2 separate regions of the Homo sapiens genome follow, and region 1 is linked to region 2. Evidence: fine-mapped expression QTL. Tissue or cell type: whole blood. Region 2 holds a variant in brackets; the other region holds the start of a gene. All regions are shown on one strand. Distances are between the middles of the regions.

The links. PIP is the estimated chance that this variant, and not a neighbour inherited with it, causes the effect.
Region 1: it holds the start of DTX4, and the variant in region 2 is fine-mapped to the expression of DTX4 in whole blood (INTERVAL, PIP above 0.99).

Annotation. Positions count from the first base shown.
Region 1 is chr11:59,171,033-59,173,718 of GRCh38, reverse strand. It overlaps DTX4 (deltex E3 ubiquitin ligase 4), which reads right to left and starts at 1,587. Exons shown (of 9, transcript NM_015177.2): 1 at 913-1,587. The coding sequence starts at 1,123. It overlaps LOC124902601 (basic proline-rich protein-like), which reads left to right and starts at 274. Exons shown (of 2, transcript XM_047427951.1): 1 at 274-454; 2 at 989-2,686. The coding sequence starts at 274. The coding sequence ends at 1,797. LOC124902675 (a long non-coding RNA gene) reads left to right here. Exons shown (of 4, transcript XR_007062682.1): 4 at 1-20. RefSeq lists enhancers at 521-630, 73-901, 1,529-1,823, 1,910-2,450 and silencers at 971-1,020, 1,081-1,650.
Region 2 is chr11:59,255,357-59,258,042 of GRCh38, reverse strand. It overlaps the pseudogene WARS1P1. Among named protein-coding and RNA genes, the nearest start is that of MPEG1, 44 kb to the right of the region's middle. The variant G/TG (reference allele first, on the strand shown) is at 1,302.

The DNA.
Region 1 (2,686 bases), 84 kb after region 2:
GGAAGCGGGTTTGTGCTGGCTACAGTGACAACTTGATTCTCATGAAAAGATAGGAGTTTGGCGCTCCAGGAGACCATGGGTTCCTTACAGGCTATGGTTTCAAGAGGAAGCCTGGGGACAGTTTCTCCTTAGGAATCTGCGTCCTCCTCCTCCGCAGACAAAGGGAGCGGCTTCCCTGCCATGCATTCCGAAGCCCCGAGCCTCCCCCTCCTCTCTCCATCTGCTCCGGCCTGTTGCTTCCGCGCATGTAGTGTGTAGCAGAGGCATTCGCCAATGCCGCGGCGTCCAGGGTACCCCAGCCCTAGTCTCTCCTCCCAGGGAGCCCGGCGCTTCCCTTACCCGACTGTAGCGAGAACCTCCGGGGAATCCCTTCTTCCTCCCCCAGTTCCCACACCCAGGACCCAGCTGCGGGGAGGCATCCCACACAGGAGACGCAGAGGCAGTGAGATCGGGGGTGAGGGGACGTGTGGCAAGCCCCAGCGTGCCTGAAGCAAAACAGGGTCAGGTCAGCCAAGGTGCCGGCCGCCACGGGATGAGGGCAGGAAGCCTTTGCGAAGGGCTGGGATTGCCTGTAGTCTGGGGCGGCCCTAGAATTTCTACATAGAAAGACTTAGGGCCACCAACTGCTGAAAAGCGGGGGCATGAAAGGGGTGGGGAGTGGATTGTTACCGACTAGGTTGAAGCTGGGTTTGCAAAACCACAACACTGATACTATTTGCATGGATGTTTAAGGGGGAGGGAGGATCCTGCGAGGATTCAGCGGAGTGAATCGCCTCCCACCACCACCTCTTGGTGACACTGCTGCACAGAAGTGCCGACTAGGTGGCCAAGGTGGGTTCACAGGGAGGGAGGTACCTTGGCAGGTTGGGAAGGTGGGAGCAGGCGGGGCGGGGTCAGGGGCGGCTGGCTCACCCGTGTCTTGGCGGAACTGGTTCATGGACTGCAGGTCGATGATGTAGGGCGCGAGACGGCTGTCCACCTGGCCCAGCACCACGCTGCCCCCCGCGCGGGGGCCGGCGCGGACCACCGCCTCGATGTGGTGGCTCACCGCTGGGCTGTAGGGACGCCAGCGGCCGTGCTCGTTCAGCCATTCCCAGACCACCACGGCCGAGGCCAGGAGCATGGCGAGCCCGGGGCTGCGGCGCTGCGCGGCCCGCCTCCCGGGCCCCGAGCGCCCGACCTCCTCCGCTTCCTCCTGCGCCGCCGCCTCCGGGCCTCGACCGCGCCCCCTGCCCCGCGCCCCGCCGCCCCGGGCAGCCTCAGCTCCGGCCCATGGGCTCCTCCCCAGCCGTGCATCCACCGGGGCCGGGACACCGGGGCCGCCTGGCTGGGACCGCGCGCCGCCGCCGCCGCCGGGGTCCGCTGCTGCTGCCGCTGCTCTGTGGGGTCGAGTCGCTTCATGCAAATGCCCGGCTCTCTGCAAACAGGCCCCCGCCTTGCAAAAGCCACTCGGCGGGCGCGCGGCCCGAGCCCCGGCGGCCGCGAGCTGGGGCTGACGGCGAGGCAAGGACCCAGCCCTCGCACCAGTTGCGCCTCGGCCTCTGCAGACGCCGGGGTGGGATCTCGCCGCACGGCCGCGCTCGGAATGGCACGCTCTGGTCCCCTCCCCTCTCTCCCTCCCTCCCCACCCCTTCGCCGCACGAATTGCAGTCCCCGCCGCTGGGAGAGCTCCCCCTGCCTGTGGCTCTGCTCAGTTCCTTCCAGAATGAACCACCCCTCCCAAGCAGGGCGCTAAGGCAAACCCGCGCCCGCGTGTGTTTCCCTGGTTCCTTGATGCAGAGAAGCGACCCGCCATGACACGGCCCCGGGACCACCACTGTCGCCCAGCCGCAACTTTGCAGCCTCCTTCCCCCAAATGTAATTTTCTCTCTCTCTCTCTTTTTTTTTCCTTAATGCAGCATGATCAGTGTCCGCAGCGCGAACTGGAGACACGCATTGTCTCGGGGCTTGCGCACGCACTGGCACACTCACAGTCGCACACACACGCGCGCGCACCCCAACTCCTTCCTTGCCCCGGCTCCTATTACCTCATCCTCTCCCGCATCCTTAGCTGTCCGTCAAGGAAGCAGAAGACACGCCCCCTGCTGCTCGGGCGAGTGCCCTGGAGCTTACCCGCCCCCTGCTGGCCTAAAGTGTCGTGTGCCGGCCAGTGGCCACTCCAACCTCTGCTAATGAGACCCAGTCCAAAGGGATGCAGCAATTTCGCTAATGATGGATTTATATTACCTACGTAGAGAGCAAATGTGGTTTTTCTGGCCAGATTCAACGTACTAGAGTCAGGAAGACGCATGTTAGATTAATTTTATCTGCATCGTTTCTGTAACTAAAATTATGAAACACTAGGAAAAACACGAGTTAGACTTATTTTGATCATCAATAGTTAATATGGAAAATAACCTTAAATAGGTAGGTTCTGACTAAAAGGGAAGACTGAAGTCAGGATTATGCATTATCCTTGTCAAAGAACACAAATTTTGTTTTGTTGAGATTGCAAACCACATAAAACAACGAATCGAGTCTTATCAAGATCCAAGTTATAGGATGCGGGAAAGTAAAAATAGATTATGTGTTAGAGAATGGGATTGTGAATCTTTTTGAAATAATCAATTTTTTCATAAATATCATATGACCCTTTTATGTTTTAGAAGAGTTGCTTCCCCCTCCCTCTCCTTGCAGCTGTCATTTC
Region 2 (2,686 bases):
GTTCCCAAGGCTCCTACAAACCCTTAATGCCCAGCTGTTGGAGCTTCCAGGACCCATATGCAGGAGTGGGTGGTTGGAAATGGGATGACTGGGTCCTTGGGGCTCCCTGCTCACCTTCCTCATCTGCTCGAGCTTGTCTTCATCCTTGAGGAAGGTCAAGTACATGAAAGACACGTCCACAACACAGTTGCCCCCAAAGTGCCTGTGCTCCTCGATGGTGTCTCTCTCTCCAGAAAATGCATGCTTACTGATCTGCACCAGAAGAGAACACAGAACCACTCATGAGTCCTGCTCATCCTGTGCCTGGAAACTGGCTAGGGGCCCAAGTGTGGAAGTCAAAGGTGTGAGTGCTGTCACATTCTGGACCATAGAAAGGCCAAGGTGCACAGCCGGCAGCCCCACCATTGTTCCTTCCTGCAAAGCCTGAGCTACCATGGGGCTCACTGCAGGAGAGGCGGGGGGCAGATTAGCTTTGTGCTCCCCCATCGTCAGAGATACAGGAGACTAGAGTTGGGAAAGCCAAAGCACTAATTGAACTGAAACTTGGGAGAGGAGTTTGGGAGATCCTCCTGCCTCGGCACTTTGGGAGGCAGAGGTGGGAGGATTGATTGAGGCCAGGAGGTCAAGACCAGCCTGGGCAACTTAGTGAGACATAGTGAGCCCCTGTCTCTACAAAAACAATTAAGGAATTAGCTGGTGTGGTGACATGCACCCAAAGTCCTAGGAGAGTGAGGTGGAAGGATCACTTGAGCCCAGGAGTTCGAGGTTACAGTGTACTATGACTGTACCACTGCACTCCAGCCTGGGTTACAGGGCAAGATCCTGTTTCTAAAAAAATAAATAAATAAAAGAAAAAGGATGAGTAAGCCATCCTCAGAGGAAAGGAGATGGCAGGGAGGGCAGCTGGCTCTTTGGGACAGGTAGTGGGGTGTTAACAGGGGACAGAAAAGCAGCACCCAACCCAACTGGCTTCTGCCTTCTCCACCATGGAAAGCAGAACAAGAAGGCACGAGAATAAGGCAATAAGGGAAAGCAAAACCCACCAAAAGTGAACAGGTAGAAAGGGCCTGCAGGCAGGTCTCCGCTTAAAAACAGGCAAAGTTTAGGAGCTGAAAAATTCTAAAACTAACGAAATGACTTTTAGGAATCATTGAAGATAATCATGGCGTAATTAGGGCTAAGAGGTGGGAAAAATAAAAGTCAGCAAAGATTGGCACAATTCCTTCAACATTCTTTCAATGAGCATTTGAGAAAGCTCTAATATACAAAGATCATACAAATTTTCTTTTTTTTTTTTTTTT[G/TG]AGGCAGGGTCTCTTCTCTGTCACCCAAGCTGGAGTACAGTGGTACGATCACCGCTCACTGCAGCCTTGACCTCTGGGGCTCAGGTGACTCTCCTGCCTCAGCCTCCCAAGGAGAATTCCAGAGCAGATTCTTAACTGGATAACTTGGGATCGTGTAGAAGGAGCAGACGAATGTTGGGGCAAAGGCACAGGTCTCTATCTTGGCAGGGCACTGCCCAGAAGCTAGGCAGAGAAAGCAGCAGTCATGGGAGAGGCTCAGGCAAGGCCCTGCAGGAGGGGCTGGCACCATGTAGGCTGGCTGGTGGGTGGGCCTGCGGGGCTGAAAAAAAAATAGCAAATGGATGTTTATCTTCCCTTTCCTTAAGAAAAAAATAAAAAGGAAAAGAAAAAGAAAAGAAAAAAAAAAAGAGAAGGCCTTCTCTCATCTTTAAAAGGATTAGCCCTGCTACCTCCCAGTGAGAATTAAAAATGAGATAACATAAATAAGGCACCCGGTCCAGCCCCTGGAACACAGCTGATGATCAGAAATATACAAAACTCATTTTCATTGTTTAATAATATCCACATTAATTATAACTTTAAGAACATCGTCGTGACTTTGCTTCTAGTACAGCGTTGGTAAGAAAAGCAGAAAAGGAAAAAAAAATTGTCTGGGCGTGGTGGCTCATGCCTGTAATACAAGCATTTTGAGAGGCTGAGGCGGGCGGATCACCTGAGGTCAGGAGTTCGAGATCAACCTGGTCAACATGGAGAAACCCCGTCTCTACTAAAAAATACAAAAATTAACTGGGTGCAGGGCCTGGGGGGGCATGCCTGTAATCCCAGCTACTCAGGAGGCTGAGGCAGGAGATTCACTTAAACCCAGAAGGCAGAGGTTGCAGTAAGCCAAGATCATGCCACTGCACTCCAGCCTAGATGACAGAGTGAGACTCCATCTCAAAAAAAAAAAAGAAAGAAAGAAAGAAAGAAATTCAAAATGTTAGCTAAATGAAAGGACACAAAACAAATTCATGTGATACCTGGGAATAGGGACAAGGCTGCCTTGAGTTCTGCAGGGAGCATAGTTGGGAATCCTGGACTCCTGGAATTCAGCATCGCTATGGTGGCTGGGGCCCAAAGGACTGTGCAATGGTGTGTGTTTGTGTGTGTCCCCCCGGGGCATGTTTCTACTCCCACTGGCTGTCCTGTGCCCTGGGCACTGCTCACCTTGGTCTTGATCTGCATGGCCATGTTGGTGAGGAAGATAAAAGAGCTGGGGTCACTGGCACTCATTTTGTTCTGGATGCCCTGCAGGTCAGAGAAGAAGGAAGAATGCAGCAGGACGGGTTTAGGATATCCGATCCTGGGGGCGATGTCCCTTGTCATTCTAAAGTAAAGATCCTACG